Regions from separate parts of the Homo sapiens genome. Here regions 2, 3 and 4 are each reported to be linked to region 1. The links are microRNA targets in miRTarBase. Many come from high-throughput screens and were not tested one by one. Region 1 holds a microRNA gene; each other region holds the end of a gene's coding sequence.
The links. The annotated mature microRNA hsa-miR-6747-3p reads UCCUGCCUUCCUCUGCACCAG and lies in region 1 at 3,563-3,583, shown strand. An mRNA with a match to its seed (bases 2 to 7 or 8) in the 3' UTR can be bound and repressed. Matches are read on the target gene's strand: a 7mer-m8 pairs with bases 2 to 8, a 7mer-A1 pairs with bases 2 to 7 and ends in A, and an 8mer does both.

Region 1 (7,819 bases):
GAGAGTGAGACTTCGTGTCAAAACAAACAAAAAACAGCCAGGAATCCCAGGACTGAGTACCATCACTTGCTTTCCATTCTCTTAAGAAGCTGGGTAATGTCTTGCCTTTAGTTTCTGTTTGGCAGCTAAGATGTTTAGTTTGTTGCCATATTTCCTGGGAAGATTGGTTATTCTTAGTTGTGAAGACAGAGGTGATGATGGTAGCTTCAGCATTAAGATCTTTTTGGAGGCAGGCCAGGCACTGTGTCTAACACCTATAATCCCAGCACTTTGGGAGGCCTAGGCGGGTGGATCACTTGAGGTCAGGAGTTCGAGACCATCCTGGCCAGCATGGCGAAACCCTGTCTCTATTAAAAATACGAAAATTAGCCGGGCGTGGTGGTAGGAGCCTGTAATCCCAGCTACTTGGGAGGCTGAGGCAGGAGAATGGCTTGAACCCAGGAGGTGGAGGTAGCAGTGAGCCAAGATCCAGCTACTGTGCTCCAGCCTGGGGGACAAGAGCGAGACTCCATCTCAAAAAAAAAAAAAAAGCTCTTTAAGCTCTTTTGGAGACAGATACAGGTTCAAGCCTTGGCTTCATTGTTTACCAATGTAGGTAAGGGGTTATATGCGGGTGAATTCCTTTAGTCCTGTTTTTTACTCTTTGCAATCTATAAAATCAGGGTAGTAATAATCACTGTCAAGGTTATTGGGTCAAAAAAGAATGACAAGTCACTGGTTTCCAAATAAAAGCTCTTGGACTGATGCTGGTCCAGAATAGTAATGTGATCATAGCAAAAGAAAAAACACTTACTGCATGCCAGACCCTGTGCCAGGGGCCTCATGGGGATCATCTTAGTGAGTGAATCTACTAAGTGGTAGAGTAGAATTTGAACCCAAGTACTGTGGAACCAGCACTCTGACTGCTGTGTTCTGTTTCCATGACAAGATTTTTTTTCCTCTTCTGGTCTTTGCAAACTAAAAAATGACAACAGTTCTACCTGAAGCTTTGCAAACTGAAAACTGACAACAGTTCTACCTGAAGCTGTTTATTCTTATTTTTCTTTGACCATGCTTAATACACCAGACACTAAGTTTAATTTGAAGGACTGTCCATTATTTATTTATTTATGTATTTATTTTGACAGAGTCTTGCTCTGTCACCCAGGCTGGAGTGCAGTGGCACGATCTTGGCTCATTGCAACCTCCACCTCCCAGGTTCAAGCGATTCTCCTGCCTCAGCCTCCCAAGTAGCTGGGATTACAGGCATGCGCCACCAAACCCGTCTAATTTTGTATTTTTAGCAGAGATGGGGTTTTGCCATGTTGGTCAGACTGGTCTTGATCTCCTGAGGACCTCAGGTGATCCACCCGCCTCGGCCTCCCAAGTGCTGGGATTGCGGGGGTGAGCCACCACACCCAGCCAGGACTGTCCATTATTCTAAATGCGTTTGAATATTTTCTTTGAATGTTCTTTACTTTCTGAAGTTTGATGGATGGGTGGGTGTGGGGGGTGTGTGTGTGTGTGTGCGTGTGTGTATAGTATGGCCAATATAGATAGTAAATACCTATAGTGTTTAGATTTTATTTGGCAAAAAAGTCCTCGATAGCCCTCTGTGGGTCTCAATCTTTTTTTTTTTTTGAGACGAAGTCTCGCTCTTGTCCCCCAGGCTGGAGTGCGATGGCGCGATCTCGGCTCACTGCAACTTCTGCCTCCCGGGTTCAAGTGATTCTCTTGCCTCAGCCTCCTGAGTAGCTGGGATTACGGGCATGTGCAACCATGCCTGGCTGATTTTTGTATTTTTAGGAGAGGCGGGGTTTCACCATGTTTGCCAGGCTGGTCTCGAACTCCTGACCTCAGGTTATCTGCCCGCCTCGGCCTCCCAAAGTGCTGGGATTATAGGCGTGAGCCACCGCTCCTGGCCGACGTTTGAAATTTAAAAGATTGGAAACAGTAGATCTGAAATAGTTTTGTAAAGGAGCAAGACAATTATTACTCCTACTCCTAAATGGAGGATGGACCCAAGCATCCATCCATTAAACTGGACTACACTGAAAAAAAAGATTAGAAAAAGAAATGGAGGCCAGGTGTGGTGGCTCACGGGTAATCCCAGCACTTTAGGAGGCCAGGGCAGGAGGATTGCTTGAGCATGCGAGTTCAAGATAAGCCTGGGCAACATAGTGAGACCCCATCTCTATTAAAATTTTTTTTTTTTTTTTTTTTTTTTGAGACAGAGTCTCACTCTGTCACCCAAGCTGGAGTGCAGTGGCGTGATCTCGGTTCACTGCAACCTCCACCTCCTGGGTTTAAGTGAGTCTCCTGCCTCAGCCTCTGGAGTAGCTGGGACTACAGGCACGTGCCACCACGCCCAGCTAATTTTTTTTTTTTTGAGACAGAGTCACTCTGTCACCCAGGCTGGAATGCAGTGCCGCGATCTCCGCTCACTGCAAGCTCCGCCTCCCGGGTTCACGCCATTCTCCTGCCTTAGCGTCCCGAGTAGCTGGGACTACAGCTGCCCGCCATCACGCCCAGCTAATTTTTTTATTTTTAGGAGAGATGGGGGTTCACCGTGTTAGCCAGGATGGTCTCGATCTCCTGACCTCGTGATCCGCCCGCCTCGGAGATCCCAGCAGTTTGGGAGGCCGAGGTGGGCGGATCACTTGAGGTCAGAGTTCGAGAACAGCCTGGCCAACAGGGCGAAACCCCATCTCTACTAAAAGTACAAAAATTAGCTGGGTGTGGTGGCAGGCACCTGTAGTCCCAGCTACTCAGAAGGCTAAGGCATGGGAGGCTGAGGCACGAGAATCACTTGAACCCAGGAGATGGAGGCTGCAGTGAGCTGAGATCACGCCATTGCACCCCAGCCTGAGCGATAGAGTGAGACTCTGTCTCAAAAAAAAAAAAAATTGAAAAAAATGAAGAAATGGGAAGTAATCCAGGGAAGGATGATGTTGTATGAAGCTATTGTCTATAGGGTTTGAAAAGAAGGTGAGCACTGGGACTTAGGTAGAGCAAGGACTCTTGCTGTGAACAGAACTCTTCAGGGCCTTTCCACTGACTTTGTTTACACCCTTATGTCCTGGCAGGTTCTAGAGCCTTCTTTCCGCCAGGCCTTTCCCAATACCAACCGCTGGTTCCTCACCTGCATTAACCAGCCCCAGTTCCGGGCTGTCTTGGGCGAAGTGAAACTGTGTGAGAAGATGGCCCAGTTTGATGGTGAGTCTGAGGAGACTGGGAGGCATATGGCCAGGATCAGGGTCTGGTTTGCTCTGCATCAACCCCTTGATTTCCTGTCTTGCTTTTGGGTTATGGGGACCTGCAGAATGTAGGGTGTCAATGTGGTAGCTAATATTATGTGCAGTTTCGTGTACACTCATACCCTGACTAATTTGTATTACTATATAGATTTGCGATATAAAGTATTTGTTGCTGAGTGTGTTGTTGCTGGAGGACACACAGTGAACTGATGAGCAGTCTGGGGCCTAAGTTCCTTACTTGTCCCATTCGTCAGTTTCCTCTGTTACCTTGCTTGCTCTGTGTGGTTTTGGAGGGGTGTGGAAAGAGGCAGAACATTCGTTCACTTTCCTGCCTTCCTCTGCACCAGCTAAAAAGTTTGCAGAGACCCAACCTAAAAAGGACACACCACGGAAAGAGAAGGGTTCACGGGAAGAGAAGCAGAAGCCCCAGGCTGAGCGGAAGGAGGAGAAAAAGGCGGCTGCCCCTGCTCCTGAGGAGGAGATGGATGAATGTGAGCAGGCGCTGGCTGCTGAGCCCAAGGCCAAGGACCCCTTCGCTCACCTGCCCAAGAGGTAAGGATATTGGAGGGTGGAGGGTGTGGGACCAAAGAAGGCCTGTTCTCACCTCTGTATGTCCCCCCTCACACACAGCTAGAGCCAGAATTTTAGGTTGTCCATATAAAGTTAAAGGTATATTTTAGTTGCAAATAAAGCAGCTTTCTGGCTGATAATCAGGAATTGGGCAAATTTTGATTGTGGAGAGCAAGTTTCAAGTACAGCCAGTACTGGGGAAGATTGAACTCCTATTCCAACAAAGACAGGAACAGATTTTGATATAGTGGTAAGTTGGTTTTGAGCAAGCTCATTTGACCATTTGAGAGCTCTGAGAACAAATACAGGGAGAGGCGTGGGGAGGAAGAAAGTGCAGAGAGCCTTGCGGTGCGCCACGCGCCCGGCTGTGCGGAGATAGTGGATGCCAGAGCAGGGTCCTTTGAATTGTTTTGTTTTCTGTTTTGCTGAATCAGACTGTACAAAAATTGCTCACTAAGAAAAAGGATGAAGATCATAGCTAAGTAGTGTCTGTCTAGTTCATTGTTCCACAACCGAGTAAAGTCCCCAAGTAGAAGAAAGTAGGTGTCCTCTGTATCCCTTTTTCAGTTAAAGGTAGGGCTTCTTGGAAGAAATAATATAGTAAAAACGAGATTTTTGGCATGAAAAATGTAGGACGCTGAGTGCTTGCCCAGTTCTCTGGGATGGAGTCTTTCTTCCATCACTGCTCCAAGTCATTTTATTGGGAGTTCAAGCAGTTTGAGAAATATATATTCTGTGGTCACTTTGCTTTGGAACTCCTCTTTCTCTGTACTTTTTCCTCCCACTCACCCTGTCATTTCCAAAGCCGTTCATCTTTTTACTGCTTGGTCTGCTAGGGTTTACATTTCACCCTCTCCCATCTTGTAATGGCTTGGATACCGGGTGAACCAGCCTAAAGGAGCACCCACTGGTAGGGACACAGTAGCTGTGCATAGAATTGTGAATTACAAGCATTGCACTAATAGATGGGAGCAACTTGGGGTATAGCTGAAAGTTCTTACTCCCGGGTATTTTGTACAAGACCAGGAAGGCTCCATCCAGACACAGGCACTCTTTAAAGATGTATTTTTTGAACTAGTGATTTGCCTTGAATTTAGCACAGGTGCAGGTCAAGAGTGAGCAGGATTTTTGGTGTGTGTAAATAGGTCATGATAATTAACCCAAATTACATATTGTGTTGTAACTCAGACGTTGTTAATTATTAGCTAGAGATTTTCACATATAGTAGGTCAGTACTCTGGGCAGGAAATAAATGAGGCAGTAGTAAACTTAAAATCTTTATTTAATAAACTTTACATTTTCTTAACATGGTTTTGGGAATGTTTATTAATGTCTATTTATTGGGTTACCATGATGCCCTACAGGGCTGCCAGAAATGCTTTCCCCAAGGTTTTTTTTTTTGGAAACAGGGTTTTACTTTGTTGTCCAATCTGGAGTGCAGTAGCGTGATCACGGCTCACTGCAGTCTTGACCTCCTGTACTCAAGCGATCCTCCCACCTCAGCCTCTGGAGTAGCTGGGACAAAGGCACACACCACCACACCCAGCTAATTTTTTATTATTTGTAGAGACTAGGTCTCACTATGTTGCCCAGGCTGGTCACAAACTCCTGGGCTCAAGTGATCCTTGGCCTCTCAAAGTGCTGGAATTACAGGTGTGAGCCACTGTACCTGGCTCCTTTTTGTGTTTTTTGTTTTTTTTTGGTTTGTTTGTTTGGAGACAGAGTCTCACTCTGTCACCCAGGCTGGAGTGCAGTGGTGTGATCTCAGCTCACTGCAACCTCCGCCTCCCCAGTTCAAGCGATTCTCCTGCCTCAGCCTCCCGAGTAGCTGGGACTACAATGACAGGCGCGTGACACCACGGCTGGCAAATTTTTTGTATTTTTAGTAGAGACGGAGTTTCACCGTGTTAGCTAGGATGGTCTCAATCTCTTGACCTCGTGATCCGCCCACCTTGGCCTCTCAAAGTGGTGGGATTACAGGTGTGAGCTACCGTGCCTGGCCCCCTTTTTTTTTTTTTTTTTTTTTTTTGAGATGGAGTCTGGCTCTGTCGCCCAGGCTGGGATGTAGTGGTGCAATCTTGGCTCACTGCAACCTCCACCTGCCGGGTTCAAGCAGTTCTGCTTCAGCCTCTTGAGTAGCTGGGACTACAGGCACGCACCACCATGCCCAGCTAATTTTTTGTATTTTTAGCAGAGACAGGGTTTCACCATGCTGGGCAGGCTGGTCTCGAACTCCTGACCTCGTGATCCGCCCGTCTCCGCCTCCCAAAGTGCTGGGATTACAGATATGAGCCACTGCTCCCGGCCTTTTTTTTTTTTTTTGTGAGACAGAGTCTCACTCTGTTGCCCAGGTTGAAGTGCAGTGGTGTGATCTCGGCTTACTGCAGTCTCCGCCTCCTGGGTTGAAGCAATTCTCCTGCCTCAGCCTCCCGAGTAGCTGGGGATTGCAGGTGCGTGCCACCATGCCTGGCTAATTTTTGTATTTTTAGTAGAGATGGGGTTTCACCATGTTGGTCAGGCTGGTCTCAAACTCCTGACCTCAGGCAATCCGCCTGCCTTGGCCTCCCAAAATGCTGGGATTACAGGCGTGAGCCACCGCCCCTGGCTCCCCCAACATTTTTAATGTCATAAAAGTGATATCCTAAAAGACCAAGACTATTAATGTCCAGATTTTAATTCTAGTTCTTTTAAGACCCAGCTAGGTCAACTGCAGTGGCTCATACTACTTGGCAGGCTGAGGTGAGAGGGTCACTTGAGTCCAGCAGGTTGAGGCTGCAGTGAGCCATGATCGTGCCCCTGCACTTGGGTGACTGAGCAAGACCCTGTCTCAAAACAAATAGCTTGAACAGTTCAGGAGGGTGTGAAAAAATTCCCAGCCCCAGTTTTGGTGTGGTTGAGGTTTTAAGGCTCCTCAGATGAGGTCTCTTATGCATTTGGAAAGGAACCTGGGACCTAGGGTTAAAGGACAGATCCTCTGCTTTGCTACAGTGTAATCTTGGACAGGTCATTCTACTTGGTCTCATCTGTAAAGAGAGGGGAGGGTCAGGGTAACAGTTGATAACTCATGGGTTATAAGGATTGAGTGAAATTGGAATACTCATGGCAATATTTATGCTATGAACAATAGAACCAACTAAACATTCAGTTTAATATTCAATGTTTAGTAGATTTATGGCACAATCCTGCATTAGAAGATTGTTTGGCCATTAAAATGTTTGCAAAGAATTCTGTTTTTGAGGTAGGGTCTTGCTATGTTGCTTAGTCCGGTGTCCAACTCCTGATCTCAGGTGGTCCTTCTACCTCAGCCTCTTGAGTAGCTGGGACTGCTAGTGCAAAAAATTGTTTTGTTTTAGGCTGGGCGCGGTGGCTCACGCCTGTGATCCCAGCACTTTGGGAGGCTGAGGCGGGTGGATCACGAGGTCAGGAGATTGAAACCATCCTGGCTAACACGGTAAAAATACCGTCTCTACTAAAAATACAAAAAGTACAAAAAATTAGCCGGGGGCGGTAGCAGGCGCCTGTAGTCCCAGCTACTCAGGAGGCTGAGGCAGGAGAATGGCGTGAACCCAGGAGGCGGAGCTTGCAGTGAGCCGAGATTGCACCACTGCACTGCAGCCTGGGCAACAGAGCTAGACTCCGTCTCAAGGAAAAATAAAAAAAAAAGGATTGTTTTGTTTTTTTGACAGGGTCTTGCTCTTCTCCCAGGCTGGAGTGCAGTGGTGTGATCTCGGCTCACTGCAACCTCTGCCTCCCGGACTCAAGCAATTCTCTTGCCTCAGCCTTCTGAGTAGCTGGGATTACAGGCGTGAGCCATGGTGCCCAGCTCCCAGCTAATTTTTAAATTTTTTTGTAGAGACAGTGTCTCGCTATATTTCCCAGGCTGAAAGAATTCTTAACAGCATGGATAGGATGTCCAGTAACAACAAAGTATAAGCACAAAACTGCATATGTCATGGCTACATCTTTGAAAAATCAAAGGCTGTAGGAAAATACATAAAAGATTATCCTGGGCT
Region 2 (7,819 bases), not on the chromosome of region 1:
AACAGGACTCTGGACCCCAACCAGGTTTCTCTGCACCCCCAAGTGCTACCTCTGCCTCATTCTTCCTCCCCTGAGCACAACAGACCCACTGACCATCCAACCTCCATCCTGAGTAGCCCTGAAGACAGAGGCAGCAGCCTGTCCACAGCCCTGGAGACAGCAGCACCTTTTGTCAGTCATACAACCCATTTACTGTCTGCCAGTTTGGATTACCTGCATCCCCAGACTATGGTTCACCTGGAGGGCTTCACAGAGCAGAGCAGCACTACAGATGAGCCCTCTGCAGAACAGGTTAGCTGGGAAGAAAGTCAGGAGAGCCCTCTCTCCAGTGGCAGTGAGGTGCCATATAAGGACTCCCAGCTAAGTAGCGCAGACCTAAGTTTAATTAGCAAACTTGGTGACAACACTGGGGAGTTACAGGAGAAAATGGACCCATTGCCTGTAGCCTGTCGACTCCCACATAGCTCTAGTAGTGAAAACATAAAGAGTCTCAGCCACAGCCCCGGTGTGGTGAAGGAGCGTGCTAAAGAAATCGAGTCTCGAGTGGTTTTCCAGGCAGGGCTCACCAAACCATCCCAAATGAGGCGCTCAGCTTCTCTCGCCAAATTAGGTTACTTGGACCTCTGTAAAGACTGCTTACCAGAGAGGGAGCCTGCCTCCTGTGAATCCCCTCATCTCAAACTGCTTCAGCCTTTCCTCAGAACAGACTCAGGCATGCACGCGATGGAGGACCAAGAGTCCCTAGAAAACCCAGGTGCCCCCCACAACCCAGAGCCCACCAAGTCTTTTGTAGAACAACTCACAACAACAGAGTGTATTGTGCAGAGCAAGCCAGTGGAGAGGCCCCTTGTGCAGTATGCCAAAGAATTTGGTTCTAGTCAGCAGTATTTGCTCCCCAGGGCAGGACTTGAATTGACTAGTTCTGAAGGAGGCCTTCCCGTGCTACAGACCCAGGGACTGCAGTGTGCATGCCCAGCTCCAGGGCTGGCCGTGGCACCCCGTCAGCAACACGGCAGAACTCACCCCCTTAGGAGACTGAAAAAGGCAAATGACAAAAAACGGACAACCAACCCCTTCTATAATACCATGTGATTCTGAGCCTACACATGTGACTTTCTAGAAGAAATGTTTGTAAAAGGGGCAGGTGTAATATGTAAGGAACATGCACTTTATTGGTTAATTTTATAATATTTTGGTCATTTTACTGTTTCTGGTGCATGCAGGGTTTGGGTGTTTTTCAGTGTGTATGTGTGTGTATATGTAAGGGGAAAGAGAGATTGATCTGGATGGCAAGACCGTTTATCATTTTTTATTTAAAAAAATCAAACCTCAAAAAAGTCATTTTCAGAGAACACCTTTATCAAAGGCAAATTGCTGTTTTTCAGTCAGCTGCCACCTGCTTCTCATTTTGCCCTCTGAGAAAAGGCATGGTTTCTTAATTGAGGGAAGGAAGCAGATTCGGAGGGGTGGAGATAAAGCTGGGGATTGGAGATGTTCCCCTGCCTTTGTGATGATGGTTTGGTTTCCAGACCTGAGGCATCGAATGGGCTAAAGGTCAGCCAGAAGTCAGAGGGCTCTCAGCCTTCATCCAGCCGCAGCCCTTTAGAGTTCCTGAAGGAGGCAGGTTCCGCTTTGCTTTAAAAGAGGGTCTTCCGGTGTTCCAGAGTGTATCGTTACAGTAAGACATGATAATGGCCGGCTCTGCAAATTTATCATATAGTTTTTTTCCCAAGAAAATTATTTTTGAAATTAAAACAGGACCCCAAATGAAATCCAAGTGGTCTTCTGTAGAGGAAAGCATGATAAGAGGAGGAAGACATAAAGTTGGGGGTGGAGAGGCTGCTGCCCAGAAACTGCTGGGTTGGTGGGATCCACACAGATGGGCATCTTGGCTCTCCCTGCCAGAAAAATGTGCTCTGCAGTGTCCTCCCAACTGAAAACAACAGTGACATGTTTGAAAAGCAGCAATCGAAAGTCAGTGTGTTCTTGTAAAATGAATATGTATGTAGGGTTTTAACCCTTCCATTACTTGAATAATTCTTTGGGCCTTCTGAGTTTAATGGCCATATTTTCTTCCAGTTTATTTTCCTTCCCCATGCTGTTGTCCCCATGCTGCCTATTTTTTTAAATTTCATAGATTATATTTGAATTGTTACATATGTTTAACATCCATTGAATGCAACGTTTTATTTTTGGTATTATCACTGTTAACACTTTTTTTTCCTTTTCCTGGAAGGTTTGTCATTTCTCTAAAGTTTGTACACAGTATTTATGTACATAATATTGTCACTGTCTTAGTGTCTTGTTCATGTTGTAGGGTAATTTTGATTTATTCTTTTTAAGAAGGAGTAGAGTTGCAACTGGAAAACACAGACACCAGAAATGAAAGTGTTGGGTGTTGATAGGAATCTGTACAATATGTTGATGGTGGCTGTAGTTGTTTAAATGGAGACTTCCAATCACCAGCTCCTGCCAAATTATGCATTAGTAACTTTTTCCTCAGAGACACCCCTAAAGGCTCCCATTAGGTCACAGCGTGACTGAAAGCTGATTTCTCTGTGAGACTGAAATCCCAGAACATTGTTTGCCAGTATCTCAACCACAGCCAGGAAGTATATGTGAGTTGCCCAGAGTGGAAGCTCCTAGTAGAGGCTGAAGGCCACAGGGGAGGCCTCAGCCAGGGGCAAGTGCCCACAGTGACTCCATTTAGGATGCTGTCGTTTTGCTACTGTTGTGGAGATCCTTAACGCAGCAGCGCCTGTCATAAACAAGCCTCTTGTAGCTTCTTACAGAAAACAGATTTAGTCTAGCATGAAACACCTCTGCATCTCATTGAAACTGAAGAGGCTTGCAGATTTGCTTTCGTTGATGTCCACGTTACTGAGGATTGACTGAGTATAGACTGGAGACAGGTTTTTGGCTTATCACAGCACTGAGGAAAATACAAATGCACAGACTGTCAGCATGATGTCAGAGGCCAGAGTTTGGTGGGGGCAGATGGCAGGGCGACCCAAAAGATGCAGAAAAGGTAGACTGGGGCCACTGGGTCTTAAGAGGAGCTGTGAAGTTGTGTGGAAGCCAAGGCTGGGTCTGACATCCCTGCCAGGAAGCAGGTTGGACAGAAACCACTTGCTAAAAGCGTCTCTATGGTGCAGTGATTATGTGTACCCTGTGCTGTTGCTCAGTAGTCTCCTTGAATGTTCAAGTATCTCATCCACTCAGTTTTGTGATTCCTGGATATTTGTGTGTTGTAAAGTGTTTTGTTAGGTGGTATGAACCAATGTGAGGAGGCTTGAGACAGGGTTATGGATTTCCAGAGCTCTTCCATGTAGAATACCCTGCCTTCTTGAAGCAGTTCCACCACCAATATGATGGGGAAGGGCAGGAACTTATGGCAGGGTGGGGAGAGGGTTTGCCTGGAAGTTAAGAGAGTGGCATCCACTTGTGGTAACCCCTTACGATGATGACATCCCACACACTAAGAGGTACAAGCAGGACCAAAGTTTTGGACTGTTCCCTCTTCTCCCCTCCACTGTGTTTAATGTTCACTCACTGCATTAAATAACAACAAAGATGGGACAAAACCCACTAATACTGTGGGGAAAAAAAATTTTCAAGAGCAGAGGAAAGTCTTTCTGCCTTTTTATAATTACTTTTTTTATCATTTAATTTACCTGCCTAAATAAACATCTTCTACAGAATATCTGTCATTCAACCATGCCAAGGAGTTTGTGCCAGCCTTTTCAGACTCCCAGAATTGGGTGTTCCTGGGTTATTTACATAGCTGAGCAGTGTCCAGGGGAGGTGCGCAGTGAACTGTCAAGGACTTTCCAGACTGTCTTCTCTTCAGACTTTTATAATCTCCAGTGGCATCTTTCCCTTTTCTTTTGTTCATGACCTGACCTGAAGCAGCAGATTTGATAGACTGGCAAAGATGAATAGGAAAAACTTTGACTCTTGCCCAGTGCCTGCCTGCCTCTCTCTCTCTCCTCTCTCTCTCTCTCTTTTTAAACCACCATAGACTCTCACTTATTTTGGAGGAGTGTATGTGCATGTGTACACATATGTACATATATAAAAACAGTTGATGTTTTGGTGTATGGGGTAAAAGCCCCAGGAGCATACAGAACTTGAGCTGAACCTGGTCAGTAGAAAGGGAAACCCCAACCCTTTCTTGATTTTTGGAGACACCCAGGACTAATGGATACTGTAGTAGACATGTAGTACTATAGTACCGTAATATTCATCTCTCCTCATTTTAGTTGCCTTTCAGATTCTAAATGTTTGGGATCATTCCTATCATCTTAGTCTCTTCAGGATCTTTAGTATTTTCCTGGTTCTGAGGAGGCTTGAGACAGGGTTATGGATTTCCTTGTTCTGTGTCTTTATCCCTACTGATAGTTCCTCTTTCTCATTTTGCAAACTACCCAGAGCTCCAAGGACAGCCTGAAGATCTCAGTGCCTCAGGCTCTGAGGTACTCTGCTCACAGGCCCCAGACAGATGCTGTTGGGTAAACTCAAAGCTTCCTATGAGAAGCTTCTGAGATGTAGCAGGTCACAGAAGTGTTCACCTGTTTCATCTGAGGATTTCAGTTCTGAAGTGATCTAGGCATGTTTGGTAAAAATGTTTTTGTGAGAGTTCTTTTTTTAAGAAAGCATTATGCAAAAAGTCACTTTTAAGGGCATTTAAAAATTTTTAAGTAAAGCCATTCTTTGGCTTTTTTGGACTATTTGTGGATACTTTGTTTACATTTTGAATATTAAAATGTGCATCATCTTGTCGGCCATGCAGTCCTGCAGGCATCAGTGCCCTGGCTGTCCTGTGAGTCCTCATGCAGAGCAGGGCCATCATGGTCAGCCCTTGTGAGTAAGTGGGTATACGCTGAAGCTGACTTCCGTCTGTGTCCTGCCCTCCCATCCAGCACTCTCTATGGAAATAGTTGTCATTTCCTCAGTGATGGTGTGTCTTATAGTGATGGTTGTAATGGTGAATGGCTAGTGTCATTTTGTTTAATTTTGTTTTGCTTTTTGATGGTGGATAAGATGAAATTTTAGCTGTTTCAGCATCAATCCAACTTAAAAGCATCTTGGACTTTGTTTTCCCTTCCAAACTAAAAGATCAAGGCATGTATTAGACACAAGCATATTTGCTGCCTCAACTCCTCTGACACCCATATTAGGAAAAGGCCTGCCACCAAAGCAGGAAGCTGCACACTCCTAACCCTTCTCCCAGGGTGTGGGGTCCCTTGACGTCATGAAGAGCTATTGCAAGGTGCTTCTGTACTTTTCCAGCCTGGAAATGGAGGGTGACTGGCCCTGGCTCCTGCTATGAGAAGATAACCAGCCTCATTTTCTCAGTGCCCCAGAGGTCTAGGATAGGATTTCTAAACTGGAATCATCCTTAATCACCTTGAAGATCCCTTAAGAGGCATTTGACTGGTGCTGCCGTCTGTGTCCTCAAAGCAATGCTGGTGGCAGCGTCCTGTGTACACATGCAGAGCTAATACCCAAACTAAAAACTGGGTAACTGGCCCTGAAGTGCTTCCCAATCAGTAAGCCCACAGGGAAATGTTTGATTTTTATGTTCTGTTGGATTTTGGTTTGCTTGGCATATCTAAAGGTGCCTTTACTTTTCTTTTTTTTTTTTTTTCTTTCTGCTTTGTTTTGTAGGACTTGTTCTAACATGGAAAACAAGTCCAGAAGACTCTCCTCTGACTGTTACCTTTGCCCCAAGCCACCCCAAACTTTTATGCTCATGTTTTATTAAAGCAGGTGCTCCCTGGAATCTCTGGGACATTTTTGAGGCATTTGAAGCAGAATATAGAGTGGTCTCATCTCCTTCCTTAATCTTCCTGGTGGTTGGGATGTTCCACTTGTATCATAGATTTTTTTATTACAGATATGCTCCACTGTTTTTAAATGTGAACTTGTGCGCAAATGTGCAGATTCAATGTTCTTGTTACAGATTGAATAAATTTTTATTTTGAAGATGAAACGTGTACTTCATCAGATGCAACAAAGGAGGGAGGTGCTGGAGAAGGTGGGAGAGTCAGAAGAGGAAACACAGTGAACACCAGTAGTTTTCAATGATTGATCCCAGTCATGTCACCCTGAAGAGAGAGCTGAGTCCCCAGAAATAAATGAAACACCTCAGCCCACTGAAAAATGTCTAGAAATGGGACATGAACATCATGAGATATTTAGTGGTGCCATTCATCACATACAAGGCAGGACTACCATCTAGGGAGAGCTCAGTTTCCAGTTCCCAATTGCTAACAAAATTTGAAGTCCCCGCCCCCCTCAAAAAAAAAAATCACTGCCTTGAACTAAAGTCAGCCTGCTTCATTCTGAATCATCCATATCAAGTGGGAGGGGCACAGTGCTGGTCTTTAGCTGGAGTGCATGACGGTGAAGGTAAGGTCTTTCACAAAATATTCTAAGGATCCCTGGGATCCCTGACCAATCTAGATAAGTTCAGTCTTGGTTTTCTAGCCAAAGCAGATGGACCAAATCATGGCTAAGTTGCGAGCTACCTCATCCAGAAAATGGCTTCCTAAAAGATGAAATCCATGGCTGTCTTCTATGGATTGCCGTTCAGAGCTAACAGTTCAAAAGGGAGGCACGAAGCCCAAGTAGCTTCTCTCCCTGATTGGTTCTTCCTGCCTTAACTCTGCCCACTCACAGCTCTGTCAGGCCTTGGCAGCCAGAAGAAGGCTAGAGGGCAGGGCTGAGCTACGCCAGGCCCAAGCAAATATCTGAATCCCTGTACCCAGAAAGCACTGCTCTTCCTAGATGATGGAACTGAAGGGAGCACGCATTGAAGGATTCCTGCTTCCTAGTCCCAAGCGCTTCCCTCTAGAAGGGAGTCTCCTGTTCTCTTTAAAGAGAAGGAGGGTGGGGGTAGGGGAGATGCCACTTCAGAGGAGGCAGCACATAAAATCCCTACTCTGCTAAGGAGTGGTGCAGAGTTGGAAAGAATCTGACCCAATCCTGTTCAGAGAGCTGTAAAAATATGGCGATTGAGCCAGGACTGGAACCAGTTTTTTAATTCATTCCAGGCATCCTTTCCTCTGTGCCACACAGTATAAACTCTCAGTTACGTTTTAGCTCAGCACTTGTGAGATAAAGTGGCACTGTCCTTCAGGGAGAGACAGAAATGCATGCTGCTGAAAAGCAAGAACCAGATGCCAGACCACGTGGGTAAGAATCATAGCTACATCAACTACCAGTTGAGGTTGTGATGGGTAAGCCACCTAACCTCTTTGTGGCTCCATTTCCTCAACTGTTAAATAGGGATAACAACAGTACCCACCTTAGAGGATTGTTTTTTGGTTTTTTGTGCGTGTGTTTTATTTGAGACAGAGTCTCATTCTGTCACCCAGGCTGGAGGGCAGTGGCATGATCTCAGCTCACTGCAACCTCTGCCTCCTAGGTTCAAGCAATTCTCGTGTCTCAGCCTCCTGAGTAGCTGGGATTACAGGTGTGCATCACCACACCTGGCAAATTTTTGTATTTTTAGTAGAGATGGGGTTTTGCCATGTTGGCCAGGCTGGTCTCGAACTCCTGACCTCAGGTGATCCACCTGCCTCAGCCTCCCAAAGTGCTGGGATTACAGGCGTTAGCCACCCGCGACCAGCCTAGAGGATTGTTAAGAGTATGAAATTAATACGTATAAAGCCCTTAGTGCCAGTGCCTAGCACATAAGCATGGGTTATTGTTGTAAAGGAGCAACTGAGTCACTCAGGTATTTTCCTCCTAATCATGTGCCTGGAATCTTTAGGTAAAAGAGAGATGACTCACATACCCTCATACCCTGCCC
Region 3 (7,819 bases), not on the chromosome of region 1:
CCCCACCGTGCTCTGACCCCTTCCTCTTCTCTTAGGGTTGGATGGGCTGTCTGAGCGCTGTGCCCAGTACAAGAAGGACGGAGCTGACTTCGCCAAGTGGCGTTGTGTGCTGAAGATTGGGGAACACACCCCCTCAGCCCTCGCCATCATGGAAAATGCCAATGTTCTGGCCCGTTATGCCAGTATCTGCCAGCAGGTGGGCCTGCAGGTCCTCAATAGGCAACCTCCTACCTCATTTGGTTCCAGTGTTGTTAATTTGCCTATTACCTGCCATGATGCCTACCTCCCCAAAAGCAAGCATTAGCTTTGGCCCGTGGAGGACACTCAAGGGCTGTTGAAGGCAGAGGGGCCAAGGAGGGATGGTGGGTGGATCTGAGGCGGCTCTTGTCTCCTGTAATCTGAGGGCTTTGAAGCCTGAGTCCCTGGCATCATCAAGATACGGTCTTGACCAGTGGCTGTGGAGAGATGTAGGTGGGACTCTGGGTTAGGAGGCCTCACAGTGACCCTGTCCCTCGCCCTGCAGAATGGCATTGTGCCCATCGTGGAGCCTGAGATCCTCCCTGATGGGGACCATGACTTGAAGCGCTGCCAGTATGTGACCGAGAAGGTAAATGGCTACCTGCCTGACCAGTGCAAGGTGGCTGGCCGGGGACCCTGGGGCTAACCCCTATCCTCTCCTCCACCCCACTACCCACCGTGCGCCTGCTCTGCTCCAGGTGCTGGCTGCTGTCTACAAGGCTCTGAGTGACCACCACATCTACCTGGAAGGCACCTTGCTGAAGCCCAACATGGTCACCCCAGGCCATGCTTGCACTCAGAAGTTTTCTCATGAGGAGATTGCCATGGCGACCGTCACAGCGCTGCGCCGCACAGTGCCCCCCGCTGTCACTGGTGAGGCCCACACTCATCTTGATCTCTATGCAGTAGATAAGCTCCACCCACAACCCTATGCCCATTTGGACGGATTTCCATGGCAACTTCCACCAGCTCCTGCCAGCTTCCTGGGTCTCTGACCACAGCCCCTCTCGCCTCACCCCTGCTCTACAGGGATCACCTTCCTGTCTGGAGGCCAGAGTGAGGAGGAGGCGTCCATCAACCTCAATGCCATTAACAAGTGCCCCCTGCTGAAGCCCTGGGCCCTGACCTTCTCCTACGGCCGAGCCCTGCAGGCCTCTGCCCTGAAGGCCTGGGGCGGGAAGAAGGAGAACCTGAAGGCTGCGCAGGAGGAGTATGTCAAGCGAGCCCTGGTAAGGATAGGCAGGAGGTGGGCAGGGTGCCTGGGTGGATGGGACTCGGAGAAGAGCCCTTCTCACTCCACCCCTCTCCCTGCTTAGGCCAACAGCCTTGCCTGTCAAGGAAAGTACACTCCGAGCGGTCAGGCTGGGGCTGCTGCCAGCGAGTCCCTCTTCGTCTCTAACCACGCCTATTAAGCGGAGGTGTTCCCAGGCTGCCCCCAACACTCCAGGCCCTGCCCCCTCCCACTCTTGAAGAGGAGGCCGCCTCCTCGGGGCTCCAGGCTGGCTTGCCCGCGCTCTTTCTTCCCTCGTGACAGTGGTGTGTGGTGTCGTCTGTGAATGCTAAGTCCATCACCCTTTCCGGCACACTGCCAAATAAACAGCTATTTAAGGGGGAGTCGGCCGTCCGTGTCTTGTGGTGTCTAATGCAGGGGAGGGCCTGGGGAGGTAGCAGAGCCCAGAAGAAGAAAGAGCCCCTGTTCTCTGTTTTTTCTGGGCAGAAAAGGAGTGAAAGGTGGAAGGACCTTCCTGCTCTGTTTTATACTTGGCCAGGGCTTCAAGAAAGGCTGAGAGCTTGTGACATTTTCTTCCAGCCACTGCAGGCTCTGCCCCTTCACCTAACAGCATAAGATAGGGCTAACAGTTGGGGAGTATGGTTGTAACTGCTCATGTCTTAGGAGGCTTCAGCCTCAGCACTTTTAGGTCCAGAACTCAAGGGGGGCAGAAGACCCCTGTGACAAAAACCCACTAACTAGCTCATGAGTGACATGAGCCAGGCAACATAATGGGTGTTTTATATGAGTAGATGCTGTTATTTTTAATTTATACCTAAGGCTCTTTTGCCCAAGATTGAACTGTTTCTTGGTGGAAAGGATTATCAATGCATATCTCTTTTTTTTTTTTTTTTGAGACAATCTCACTCTGTCACCCAGACTGGAGTACAGTGGCACGATCTTGGCTCACTGCAACCTCTGCCTCCTGGGCTCAAGCGATTGTCCTGCCTCAGCCTCCCAAGTAGCTGGGATTACAGGCTCACGCCACTATCGCCTGGCTAATCTTTGTGTTTTTTAGTAGAGGTGGAGTTTCATCACATTGGCCAGGCTAGTCTCCAACTCCTGACCTCACATGGTTCCTCCACCTCAGCCTCCCATAGTGCTGAGATGATAGGCGTGAGCCACTGCGCCCAGCCAATGCTTATCTCCTTAATCTACACTATTGAGTTTTCTGTTTTCCCATCTTTTTTTTTTTTTCTTTTTGAGACAGTTTCGCTCTTGTTGCCCAGGATGGAGTGCAATGGCACGGTCTCTGCTCACTGCAACCTCCCCCTCCCGGGTTCAAGTGATTCTCCTGCCTCAGCCTCCACAGTAGCTGGGATTACAGGCGCAAGCCACCACACCCGGCTAATTTTTTATTTTTAGTAGAGACGAGGTTTCGCCATGTTGGCCAGGCTGGTCTCGAACTCCTGACCTCAGGTAATCCGCCTGCCTCAGCCTCCCAAAGTGCTGGGATGATAGGCGTGACTGCGCCTGGCCTGTTTTCCCATTTTAACAGGAGATGGAATTAGAGAGGGCTTCTTAGTCTCCTTTGGGCTGTGGAATCCCATAAAAACCTTGAATTGTTTCCAATACCCCCTTGGTAATGCAGATACAGAAGTTAAGCTGTAGAGCTCAGGCTCCAGGTGAAGAACTGTGTCTCTGTAGCTGCTGCTTTCCATGAAGCTAGAATGAGCGTGCCATGCCATTACTTTGAGCCTTTCCCCAATGACCCAGGCTGGGGTGTACAGTAACTACATCAGCTCTCTGGACCTAGAGAATCTCTGCAGTGATTCAGGTAGAACGGAGTTACCTAGAACCTTCTAGGAGTATAAAAACTTGGTCCTAGGCCGGGTGCGGTGGCTGACGCCTATAATCCCATCATTTTGGGAGACCAAGGTGGGCGGATCATGAGGTCAGGAGTTTGAGACCAGCCTGGACAACATAGTGAAACCTTGTGTCTACTAAAAATACAAAAATTAGCCGGGCATAGTGGCGCACACCTGTAGTTTCAACTACTTGGGAGGCGGAGGCAGGAGAATTGCTTGAACCCAGGAGGCAGAGGTAATGGTGAGCCGAGATTGTGCCACTGCACTCCAGCCTAGGCAACAGAGCCAGACTCCGTCCCAAAAAATAAAAATAAAACTTGGTCCTTCCCTTTTCTGCTTATTTTGCTTTTATTGCTTACATCTAAAACAAAACCAATCACTATTATCCCTCTAAACTTTGGATTAATTTGTCTGCCTAGCTCATTCAACTCTGGGAAACAAACACTGAAGTAAAGCAAATAAAAATTGAAGGTCGGTAGAAGATGGCAAAGGGGGCATTCCAAAAGGGAACATGTGCAGAGTCTCAGAGACTGGAGAGATTGTTTAAAGATCAATAGTTTCAGCCGGGCACGGTGGCTCACAACTGTAATCCTAGCACTTTGGGAGGCTAAGTCCGGCGGATCACGAGGTCAGGAGTTCAAGACCAGCCTAGCCAATGTGGTGAAACCCCCGTCTCCACTAATAATACAAAAATTAGCTGGGCATGGTGGCGCGCGCCTGTAGTCCCAGCTACTCGGGAGACTGAGGCAAGAAGAGTCGCTTGAATCTAGGAGGTGGAGGTTGCGCTGAGCCAAGATTGTGCCACCACACTCCATCCTGGGCAACAGAGCGAGACTCCGTCTCAAAAAAAAAAAAATAAAAAAGACTAGAGAAGCAGAGAACGTCATATACCAGTTTGGGGGATTTGGACTTTTATTTATTTATTTATTTTGAGACGAAGTCTCGCTCTGTAGCCCAGGCCGGAGGGCAGTGGCACGATCTGGGCTCACTGCAACCTCTGCCTCCCGGGTTCAAACCGATTATCCTGCCTCAGCCTCTCCAGAGTAGCTGGGATTACAGGTGCACGCTACTGCACCCGGCTAATTTTTTGTATTTTTAGTAGAGACGGGGTTTCACCATGTTGGCCAGGCTGGTCTTGAACCCCCAATCTCAGGTAATCCGCCTGCCTTGGCCTCCCAAAGTGCTAAGATTACAGGCGTGAGCCACCATGCCTGGCCTGGACCTCTTAATTTTATGATAATCTGAGTTCCCGAAAGAGTAATTGATAGAAAAAAAAACTACACCTGAGGACACAACTTTCTGAGTTCAAATTTCTTTTTTTTTGAGACAGCATTTCACTCTGTTGTCCAAGCTGGAGTGCGGTGTCACAATTTCGGCTCACTGCAACCCCCGCCTCCTGGGTTCAAGCGATTCTCCTGCCTCAGCCTCCCAGGTAGCTGGGACTACAAGCGCATCACCAAACCTAATTATTATTATTTTTTATTTTTTAGGATAGACAGGGTTTCACCATGTTGGTCAGGCTGATCTTGAATTCCTGACCTCAGGTGATCCACCTGCCTCGGCTGCCCAAAGTGCTGGGATTACAGGTGTGAGCCACCACACACAGCCAGGTTCAAATTTCTTTCTTTTTTTTTTTTGAGACAGAGTCTCGCTCTGTTGCCCAGGCTGGAGTCCAGTGACGCAATCTTGGCTCGCTGCACGCTCTGCCTCCTGGGTTCACGCCATTCTCCTGCCTCAGCCTCCCAAGTAGCTGGGACTACAGGCGCCCGCCACCACGCCCAGCTATTTTTTTGTATTTTTAGTAGAGACGGGGTTTCACTATGTTAGCCAGGATGGTCTCGATCTCCTGATCTCGTGATCCGCCCGCCTCAGCCTCCCAAAGTGCTGGGATTACAGGCGTCAGCCACCGCGCCCAGCCCAAGTTTCTTATTCTTTTTGTTTATAGACTGGGTCTCACTCTGTTGCCCAGCCTGGTCTTGAACTCCTGGGCTTAAGTGATTCGCCTCGGCCTCCCAAAGTGCTGGGATTACATGCTTGAGCCACCACACCTAGCCCCGGATTCAAATTTCAGTGTAACATCCCCAATCCACTGTTATACAAGCAATGAACAAGTTATTTAACCCCTCTGAGCCAGTTTCCTCCTCTTAAAAAAGGCACAAAACTTAATAGAAAGCAACTAAGAAGCCAGGCACGGTGGCTCAAGCTGGTAATCCCAGCACTTTCCGAGGCCGAGGAGAGTGGATCACCTGAGGTCAGGAGTTCGAGACCAGCCTGACCAAAATGGTGAAACCCCGTCTCTATTAAAAATGCAAAAATTAGCTGGGCGTGGTGACGGGTGCTTGTAATCCCAGCTACTCAGGTGGCTGAGGCAGGAGAATTGCTTGAACCCAGGAGGCGGAGGTTGCGGTTTGCCAAAATCGCTCCACTGCACTCCCGCCTGGGCGACAAGAGCAAGGAAGGCTCTGTCTTAAAAAAATAAATAAATGAAAATACAAAAATTAGCCAGGCGTCGTGGCACATGCCTGTAATCCCAGCTACTTGGGAGGCTGAGGCAGGAGAATCGCTTGAACCTGGGAGGCGGAGGTTGCAGTGAGCCGAGATTGTGCCACTGCACTCCAGTCGGGGTGAAAAAGCAAGACTCCGTCTCAAAAAAAAAAAAAAAAAAAAAAAAAGAGGCCGGGCACGGTGGTACACGCCTGTGGTACAGCACTTTGGGAGGCTGAGGCAGGTGGATCATGAGGTCAGGAGATCGAGACCATCCTGGCTAACACGGTGAAACCCCGTCTCCACTAAAAAATACAAAAAAATTAGCCGGGCCTGGTGGCGGGCGCCTGTAGTCCCAGCTATTCAGGAGGCAGAGGCAAGAGAATGGCGTGAACCCGGGAGGCGGAGCTTGCAGTGAGCCGAGATGGCGCCACTGGACTGCAGCCTGGGCGACAGAGCGAGAGAGTGAGACTCTGTCTCAAAAAGAAAAACGGAAGCAACTAAGAAATGTCAAGAGTGCCATTTTGGAATCAGAGAAGTCATGCTGACTGAGGCACAGGCTTGGCGTGGGAAAAGTGGACTCCAATCTGTTAACTTCTGAAGTTGTCCACGGCAAATATTTCTCTGACGGCACAGGAAGAGATCTGAACTTGGCTTCCCTCATCCATTGAACAAGTATTAACAAGTATCTATATATGCCTACCGTGCCAGGCCTTATTCTAACCACTGGGGCTGCAATATTTAAAAAGACAAAGTTGGATCCTCCAAGGACTGTGGTGGGGAAGGCTGACAAAACAAGTAACAAAAATGTGTAACATTAAAAAAAAAGTGTAATGTTAAAAAAAAAAAGTGTAATAAAGTTACAAAGCCTAGCCCCAGCTCGGCTTGTTTCCCTAGCTGAAATGGGGGATGGCCGGGCGCGGTGGCTCACGCCTGTAATCCCAGCACTTTGGGAGGCCCGAGGCGGGAAGATAGCTTGTGCCCAGGAGTTCGAGGTCACAGTGACCTATGATAGCCCCACCGACTCCAGCCTGAGCGATAGAGCGAGACCCTGTCTCTAATTTAGAAAAAAGAAAGTTGTGGCCGGGCGCGGTGGCTCACGCCTGTAATCCCAGCACTTTGGGAGGCCGAAGGGTGGTGGTGGGTGGGGGCGCGGATCACCTGAGGTAGGGAGTTAGAGACCAGCCTGACCAACATGGAGAAACCCCGTCTCTATTAAAAATACAAAATTAGCCCAGCGTGGTAGCGCATGCCTGTAATCCCAGCTACTCAGGAGGCTGAGGCAGGAGAATTGCTGGAACCCGGGAGGCGGAAGTTGCGGTGAGCCGAGTTCGTGCCATTGCACCCCGGCCTGGGCAACAGCAAAACTCCGTCTCAAAAAAAGAAAAGACAGTTGTTTAAACATTTTTATGAAATGATATGGGAGGGGACTGGTCTAGGGTTTCTAATAGCCTCCACATCGCCCAGCGGCAGAGCCCACAAAACTGCCACTGGCCGCCACCGGGTTCCTCCACCTCCTTCCCGATCTCAGGCTGGAGAAGTGGTGCAGGGGTCGCTGCGAAAGGAGAGGAGCGTGTATGACGCCACATCCGGCGCGCGGCGGAACTGGCCTCCTTTGCTTCCGCGGCGGGGCCGGAAGTAGGAGCGGCGGCGGCGGCGGCGGCGGCGGTCGAAAGCGGAGTGAAAGAGGGAGGCAGGGAGCCGGAGAGCCGGAACCGGAGTCGCAGCGGCGGTAATAGTGCGAGACTCCTCTAAGTCACCGTCCTTAGCGCGGGACCGCGGGGTTCGACGGGAGTTAGCGGGGGTGCGGCCAGGCCGTTGGACGCCGGGGGGTCCTGGGGCCGATGTGAGGGGAGGCGGGGGTGGGGGAGCCGGGCCGGCTCTAGAATCGAGTTGTCCGCTCCGAGCCCCGGACGGACACTGATCCGCGGGCTCGTCTTGGCCTTTCCCAGGAGACCCCTGTGCGGTGCGGAGGGGGCGGCGGCCCCGACTCTGACCCGCGCCGGGGGTGGGCCATGGCGGAGATCAGCGACCTGGACCGGCAGATCGAGCAGCTGCGTCGCTGCGAGCTCATCAAGGAGAGCGAAGTCAAGGCCCTGTGCGCTAAGGCCAGGTGAGCTCGTTGGCCCTGGGGAAGGGAGGCCAAGCCGCCGCCCACGGGTTCTGGCCTGGGGCAAACCCAACTGAGAACTTTGGGCTTGCCTCGTTCTGGAAGCTTTCCCAGAGAGGAGCAGGATGG
Region 4 (7,819 bases), not on the chromosome of region 1:
GCCCTGAATGTGAGACTAAGGGGTTGAGCCCCGATCCTATGGACAGTGGAAACCACTGTGAGTTTTGGTATAGGGTGTGAGGTAGGGGTCATGTAGAGGTTTGGCTCTCCCAGCACCAATTGTTGAAAAGACTGTTCCCCATTGAATGATGGTGGCCCCCTTGTTGGAATGAATTGACCATTACCATAAGGTATGGCAGGCTTTTGAGAGAGGAATCATGTGGTCAGATATGTATTATAGAAAGATCAGGTGAGACTTGTTTGGACTGGGAATGGCTGGGAGGAGGAGGGGTTGGAGGGAGGCTCTTATGGGTGGACTTGATGGCAGGGGGACAGAAGGGGCATCTGGGGAGAAGAGACATCCCTGGATCAGCCCATGGCGGGCAGCAAGGTACAGGGCTATGTCCTGAGCCAAGGCCAGGATCTGGCCCACTTGGGCCTGTGGAACTCACTGGGGGATGGGGATGGGGCAGTCAAGGGAGAGACAGAGAAAATGCCCCCACTCCTCGGCCCCTCAAGGTCCTCAAAGTGGTAAAATAAAACCCACTCCAGATATAGCCATTTGCAAAGTCAGTTTTCAGGTAATGAAAGGATTGTAATGGAAAAACAATGCCAATTACAGCAGCATTATCCGGGATTATAAAGCTTCTAAGAGGCGGCTCACACCTCCAGGCATGCTGTGCCTGGGAATTTCCAGGGTAGACTTGGGATCAGAGCATACAGGCTGCCAGGATCCAGGCCTCACAGTGGGCGTGGGCTGCTGGGGAGGCCCAACCCCTGGGGCTCTATGGATCTGCCTCCATTTCCCCAAAGAGATAGAATACCGGGAGGCAGGAGGACCCCCCCAACTTCACACACACACACACACACACACACACACACACACACTTCTGAGAAATTGGATAAGAGGAATGTGAGGCTGCCAGCCCATCTCTGAAGGAAACCTGTTCTTCTGTGGGCTTCCCTACTCCTGGGGACACCACATCCCTCCATGGCTCTTTCTGCCTCCCCCATCACCTCCCCTACCTGGCCTTGGGGACAGCAGGACTGCACACATGCCCTTGGGGACAGCAGGACTGCACACACGCCGAGGCAGCCCAGCGTTGCTCCTCCTGGGCTGTGTGACCTGGAGCCAGTCAGCTGTTCTGAGTGGTAGCTTCTGCTTCGATAAAATGGGGAGATCACCCCTGCCCACCATCACAGACCTATTTTCAGGATTAAATGAAATATTCTAGATAAAGAGTCCGAGGAATAGAAACCAGTCCAACCTCGGGGCCTGGCGATTTGGTGGTGACTGTTAGAACAGTGAACTTCTATGCACTGGGTCCCAGGAATCCCTCCTCATTTCCCATAGGGAAAGTTTTGCAGATGTGTGTGTGTACAAGGATGTTCCCTGCAGCCCCTTATGTGAGGTTGAAAAATCATAAACAACTGAAAAGGCCTTCGATAGGGGGCCTGATTAAATTAGGATCCATCTGTCCTGCAGGATCCTTTGCTGTAATTGGAGTCTGGCAGCTCCTGTGTGCTGTCTCCGGCAGATCCCACCACGTGGGGCTGCATCAACAAAGCAAGTGCAAACAACACCTACAAAATGAATGCATCGCGGCTGTTCGGAAGCCCGCACGGCGCTCCACATTTTACATGTTCACAGGTAGACACCTAGATGCCATAAAAGCAGCGACGAAGAAAACACTCCCAAATGACCCGATTGGTTACTACTGGGGAGGGGACGGGTATGGAGGCTGGGAGGTGGCAGGTGCATCAGAGGAGTTTCACTTTGCTGTAGTTTTAATGTTTCACTGTAACATATGCTTCTGTCACCCACATATGTCACCTCCAGACACACACAAAACACACGCCAACACCAAGTTCAGAGAGTCTGGCCTGACCCGCGCTCAGTCAAGGCTGAGGCCATCATTCTGACCACAGGTCAGGGAAGGGAGACTGGGGAAGCCCCCTCAGGTGGACAAATGACATCCCCTGGCATTGCAAGGAATGGAGTGACGCCACTCAGCCTGGCTGGACTGAGCCAACGGCCCACCTCTCCTGCATAAGCTGTCTGCCAAGAAAACTATTGAACTACATAAAAATCCATCCCTGAAATCCCAGAGGCATCTTTAGAATGGAGCATGGACTTTACATTAGAATGTGCTTTAACAAAAAAAAAAAGAGAGAGAGAGAGAAAGAAAAAGGAAAAGCAGGTTTTGCCTGTAACTTGAGTTCAGGTTTGTGACACTGGGTGGCCAAAGAGCACTGCCTACCCTGGCCGAGGCCACCAGGCTCAGTTCCTGCAATATTGGCTGTGAAGGGAACCCCAGCCACACCGGGTTCAGCGCAGAACCAGCACATGTTCCCATGGAAACTCTGCTGCCAGAATCCCCTGGAAATGTTTGCTGAGGAGGGGCCACCGTTTACCGCACCCACTGCAAGTTCTGGACTGGTGGTAGAGGCTGGGCACAGACTGACCTCCAGAAGAAGTCCATGGGCCCTCTGCTAGGGTGGCACCAGACTTCCCTGGTCCCACAGGACAGCCAGTGGCCTCCTAGCTTAGTTCTGGGCCCCCGCCTGCAAGCACACGTGGCAAGGAGGGCTTCAGCAGGCTCGCAGAACCGAGTGGCAAGGCCCCTGCTCCCAGAAGCTGGTTTCCCAGGATGATTTTCTCAAGCAAGTGCTGACAGAGCAGGAGTCAAGCGGGGGTGGGGTTGGAGGCTGAAACCCATTGAAGGGGTCAACTTCCTAGAGGCAGGCAGGGATGCCTGGGGGTGCCAGACGTGGCTGAGATGTTTCTGCAGAGGGGAGGTTGGGAAGACCTAGGAGGGCAGGGCAGGCTGGGCCGGGAGAGATGGTGGGAAATCCCACCAGGTCAGGGGCCAGTGGGCAGAGGGAAGCATCAGCTGAGACCCAGAGACAGGGCTGCCCTGCTGCGGTAGGGCCCAGGGGCAGGGGCCTGCAGGGGCTGCCTGGGGCTTCCCTTCCCCACCCTAACTCCAGTCCCCACTCAGGACTGCTCACATCCGTCCGTCCTGGAAGGTCCACAGCTCCCCTTCACCTAGGCCTCACCTACTCCACTCAAGCCACCCCATCCCCCTTAGCTTTTCCCCTCCAGGCCCATTCATTCAGCTCCTGCTAAGCCAGCACCCTCCTTCCCTCACCTCTCTGCTTACCTTGCTCCCACCCCCAGCTCTGGGCAGCCCTGGCCTGTCCATCTGATCGTGCTACCCCGTAGGCACTCCTTAAAGGCATGGCTGCAGAGAGCCTGGGCCCAGCTCCCAGGGAGGCCTGCCTCTCACTTAGACTCCTCTGTACTGCCCCAGAAGCCTATTCCTTCTGAAGGACGAGTCTTGAAGGAAATGCACACCCACTGAGCTTCTGCCTGAGCCAGGGAGTCCCCTTCTGTCCTTTCTGAGACACTGAGTAGTGTTTGTTTGTTTGTTTATTTGGACAGAGCGTGCTCTGTAGCCCAGGCTGGTGTGCAGTGGTGCCACTTCGGCTCACTGCAACCTCTGTCTCCCAGGTTCAAGAGATTCTCCTGCCTTAGCCTCTCGAGTAGCTGGGACTACAGGTGCGTGCCACCACACCAGGCTAATTTTTGTATTTTTAGTAGAGACGGGGTTTCACCACGTTGGCCAGGCTGGTCTCAAACTCCTGGCCTCAAGTGATCCACCCGCCTCGGCCTCCCAACATGCTGGGATTACAGGCATAAGCCACTACGCCTGGCCTGAGCTGTCTTGACTGTCACTGCAAACTGAGGCTCAGGTGGCCAGTGACTTGCCCAAGTCCACAAGGCTGTGGGAGGTGGAGCAGGGATTCAAGGGAGGCCCTGAGGCCACCCAGCCTGGGTGGGTCTCAAAAGCAATTTTCTTCTCTTCCCTCCTCCACCCATTCATAGTGGAAAGCAAGCCTGCACCCCAGGAGCTCCCATTCATACCCTCTCTGTCCCCTCTCTGTTCTTCCTCCTCCCGCCTGCCCCATGCACCTCCCACCCTGAAGTTCCCTGCCACCCCTCGCCCTGTGCCAGCTTGTCTCTGCAGGCTCTCAGTCCTGGGGGCTGGAGAACAGGTGCTCAGTCCTCTTTGCTGCCCACAGAAGTCTCAGAACATTCTTGCCCCACCCTCCCTTGGGCCAAAGCCCTTTAGGGTCCCGTCCTTTCATGCTGTGCTCTCCTCCTCCTCCTCCTCCTCCCTGCCTCTCTCCTTGCTCACTGAAGACCTCAGCACCCACTGCCTCCCAGCCTTGCCCTGAACCAAGCACAGACGACCACCACGCTGGCAATGTCTCTGTCCACCAGAGGGGTGATGGGTCAGCCCCCAAGAACCTCCTACGCCACAGGGAGGAGTTGGAATTTTATTCCAAGTGAGGCAAAAACCATGCAAGGTATAGAGCAGGGGAGGCCAAGGCCAGGTGTGGGTTTAATCGGGGTCTGTCGGTGGCAGGGCAGCTGCAGGGAGGCCGTGTTGGTGATGCCTGGGCCAGGGCACAGTGGTAAAGTTTAACCCAGGCTCCCCTGTCTACCCCTGAAAAAGACTGGAAAATGCTGAGTCCCAGCCAAGGGTCCAGGGTCTAGGAGCTGAGGTCAGAGAGGCCCAGGAGGTGGGGGAGGCAGGCCCAGTGAGGTGGCCCTCTCCTGGTCTTGCTGGCTTCGGTTTTCCCAGGGGAGCTCACTGCACCCTGAGCGGCATTGTCCCCCATTGCCCTGACCCTTGCCCCCACCTCCTTGGCTGGTGGAGCCAGGAGCCTGGGAGGCCCCTGTGCACACCTGGCAGCTTCACCTCCCCAAACAGGCCCGGAGTTCATTCAAATCCAGCCTCTGGGAGCAGGGGCCTTGCCACTCGGTTATGTGAGCCTGCTAAAGCCCTCCTTGCCATGTGTGCTTGCAGGCGGGGGCCCAGAACCAAGTTGGGAGGCCACTGGCTGTCCTGTGGGACCAGAGAAGTCTGGTGCCACCCTAGCAGGGCCAAGGGACTTCTTCTGGACGTCAGTCTGTGCCCAGCCTCTACCACCAGCTTTCCCTTCCCTGCAGGGAGGGGCATGACCTGCAGAACCAAAGGTGCTTCTGTGAGCCAGTAGCCCAGTGCTGCTTGGGGGCAGGGGCGGGGCCTGTGCCTTGGGTTCCCCCCCCTCCCTGGGCACATTTGGGGTTGGGGCAGCCCACACGGTGGGGTGGGAAGATTGACCTGCCCATTTTACAAATGAGCAAAGGTGGGAGAACTCAGGGAGACATGGGGGAGCAGAGGGAGGAAGCAGAGCCCAACAGCCCGGGGCACCCGGACCCCAGCCACTGCCTGCCTGTGGATGGGTTTCTGGCCACGGTGCAGGGCTACTGCGAGGAGGAAATGAGGGTGATGTGGGCACCTGAAACAGCAGAAATGGCTCAGGGCCAGGCACTGGGGAGCCACTGTCCCCATGGGGCTTGAGCTTCTGCCTCAGAGGGACCTTCCGGCTGCCATTGAGGGTCCCAGCACCAAACCCCACAGCTGGACCACTTGGGACCTCAATCCACAGGGGGCCAGGGCTGCGGCCTATGGCAGATAAAGATAGAGGAGGAGGGCTGGATGAAGCCACAGGTGGTGGGCACAGGATAGGCCAGACAGAAGGGACTTTGGGGGACTCCACCTTGGGTAGAAGGAGGGACAGCTGAGGTCCTGTGGTGGAGAAGGCCTGGAGCAGAGGGTGACCAAGGAGATGACAGAGTGCACGTACAGGGCCAGGCCAATGGGAGTGGGAACCCTTGGGAGAGGGAGCTTCAGGCCATTCATTCAGTTCCTGTTTAGCCAGCACCCTCCTCCCCTCATCTGTCCCTCTGCCCTCACCCCAACATGCCAGAATCTCCTTCCTCTCCAGCTTGTACCCAAGCCCTCTCTGCTCCATGCCCCCAGCCTGCTGACCACCTCTCAGCCATGTCCTGGGCCTCCAGATCTGTCCCTGATCCTAGTCTTGCCTCTGAGGGGTCCATCATCCTTGTCTGTCCCCCAGACCTCCCACGCCAGCCCCTGCTCCCACCCTGCCTGGCTGCCTCGTGCCTCTGGCCCAGCTGGGTAGGTAGGGATTTGCATAGCTGCTCCCCAGCTCCTCCATACCTCGGCTCCCCACACAGCACTGCTAGGCGCCCCTGCAGGGTCCTCCCTCAGCTCAGAGGCTGCCCTACTGGCTGAGGTGCAGGCTGGTGCCAAGAGAGCATGCTGCTCTGTCAGCATGAGGCAGTGAGCAGGGCTCTGGGCAAGGGTGGCATCCAGGAAAGCCCTTGAAGACTGAGGGGCGCTTTGCTGGTTGGGCCAAGGGAGGAAGGGCCTGCCTGGCAGAAGGAACAGCCTGGGCAAAGGCCCCAAGATGGGAAAGCCTTGGTGGTTGGGGCATAGAATGGGGGGGCAGTGGGGCCGGCCAAGACAGGAAGGGCCTTGAATGTGAGGGTGAAATGATGGGGTGTCCCTGGGGGCCTTACTCCCAACTCAGATCAAGTCCTTTGGTGGCAGGGGCTGCCCCGGTCCTCTGACCCAGGGCAAGCTCTATGAGCGGTGGAGCCCATCCTAGAGATTTTCATAGACCAGGTTAAGTTCGCCATCATCTTCGAATCTATGCGGTCTCTCCTGGATAGAAAAGAAGAAAGGGAGGGAAGGAGAGAAAGAGAGAGAATGACCATTAAGAATGAACTTGCACTAATTTAGTTTTAGCCAGAGGGCAACAGATCACTTCCTGTGTAGCTTTGATGGGGGGCCTGCCCTCTGTCTCCAAGCCCACCTCCCCAGCCTCTTCCCCCACCATGCTGCCCCCACCCCTGCCCATTGCCCTCCAGCCACATGGGCCTGCCCTTCCAGCCTCAGAGCTTCCCCCACAGCTCTGCCCTCTGCCTTCTGCCCTATGTGTGGGATGCGCCTCCTCCCACAGACACACCTGTTCCATGACTGCCCCCTACTCACTCTGCCTGCGGGCTCATCATAGGGTCCCAGGGACCCCCTCCCTCCCTCCCCACCCTGGCTGGTCCCTCCCAGAAGAACACCCCTCACAACAGGGCTACAAATGCCTCTGTGTGTCCATGGGGTCAGCGACCTATTCCTGCAGACTATGGCTCCCAGAGGGTAGGGACATGCCTAGTTCTCCTGTCCAGCACCCCAGGGCCTGGCACAGGGTGGGCACTGCCGGAGATGTCCCTGCTTTCACTCAGGGTCTAGTTGAGGGCTGAGTATAGAAAGGGCTTTGAGAACAGGCGATTTAACAAATAGTGCCAGCCCGAGCCAGAGAAGGCCAAGTGCCAGGCGCCCGCACTCCCTGACAGATGTTCCAAGAGGCCTGTGGGCTCCTGTTCTGGCTGAACAACGCCTCACGCTTGACGGTGCTGGAAGCTCTGGTGCAGATGTTATTCAGCTTGGAACACATTTGAATTCAGAGGCAGTTGGTATTGCAGGAAAACACTGCTCATCCACTTTACAGATGAGCAAACAGGTTTAAGAGAGAAAGTATGGGCCGGGCGCGGTGCCTCACACCTTTAATCCCAGCACTTTGGGAGGCTGAGGTGGGTGAATCATGAGGTCAGGAGTTCGAGACCAGCCTGGCCAACATGGTGAAAACCTGTCTGTACTAAAAACACAAAAAATTAGCTGGGCACAGGGGCGGGCGCCTGTAATCCCAGCTACTCGGGAGGCTGAGGCAGGAGAATTGCTTGAACCTGAGAAGTGGAGGTTGCAGTGAGCTGAGATCGCGCCACTGCACTCTGGCCTGGGTGATGGAGCAAGACTCTGTCTCAAAACAAAAACAAAAACAAACAAACACACACACACACACACACACACACACACAAAACAAAAACAAAAAAAAAGAGAGAAAGT

Region 2: the mRNA of SSH2 is a reported target of hsa-miR-6747-3p. Seed matches in the 3' UTR shown: 7mer-m8 at 1,619-1,625 and 7mer-A1 at 3,381-3,387.
Region 3: miRTarBase lists ALDOA as a target of hsa-miR-6747-3p. The part of its 3' UTR that is shown has no 7-base or 8-base seed match.
Region 4: the mRNA of NFAM1 is a reported target of hsa-miR-6747-3p. Seed matches in the 3' UTR shown: 7mer-m8 at 6,287-6,293, 7mer-m8 at 6,000-6,006, 7mer-m8 at 5,281-5,287, 7mer-m8 at 4,181-4,187, 8mer at 3,527-3,534 and 7mer-m8 at 3,278-3,284.

The regions. Positions count from the first base shown.
Region 1 is chr11:62,562,775-62,570,593 of GRCh38, reverse strand. It overlaps MIR6747 (microRNA 6747), which reads left to right and starts at 3,523; the gene lies at 3,523-3,583. EEF1G (eukaryotic translation elongation factor 1 gamma) reads left to right here. Exons shown (of 10, transcript NM_001404.5): 6 at 3,066-3,195; 7 at 3,584-3,788.
Region 2 is chr17:29,624,114-29,631,932 of GRCh38, reverse strand. SSH2 (slingshot protein phosphatase 2) reads left to right here. Exons shown (of 16, transcript NM_001282129.2): 16 at 1-5,995. The coding sequence ends at 1,092. Among named protein-coding and RNA genes, the nearest start is that of CORO6, 5.1 kb to the right of the region's middle. RefSeq lists an enhancer at 7,221-7,819.
Region 3 is chr16:30,068,783-30,076,601 of GRCh38, forward strand. It overlaps ALDOA (aldolase, fructose-bisphosphate A), which reads left to right. Exons shown (of 10, transcript NM_001243177.4): 6 at 36-196; 7 at 524-607; 8 at 717-891; 9 at 1,048-1,247; 10 at 1,335-1,632. The coding sequence ends at 1,430. It overlaps PPP4C (protein phosphatase 4 catalytic subunit), which reads left to right and starts at 7,212. Exons shown (of 9, transcript NM_002720.3): 1 at 7,212-7,312; 2 at 7,533-7,693. The coding sequence starts at 7,596. It overlaps LOC112694756 (uncharaterized LOC112694756), which reads left to right. Exons shown (of 14, transcript NM_001365304.2): 10 at 36-196; 11 at 524-607; 12 at 717-891; 13 at 1,048-1,247; 14 at 1,335-1,632. RefSeq lists enhancers at 5,934-6,113, 7,736-7,819 and a silencer at 7,486-7,625.
Region 4 is chr22:42,378,638-42,386,456 of GRCh38, forward strand. NFAM1 (NFAT activating protein with ITAM motif 1) reads right to left here. Exons shown (of 6, transcript NM_145912.8): 6 at 1,770-6,583. The coding sequence ends at 6,524. Among named protein-coding and RNA genes, the nearest start is that of LINC01315, 13 kb to the left of the region's middle.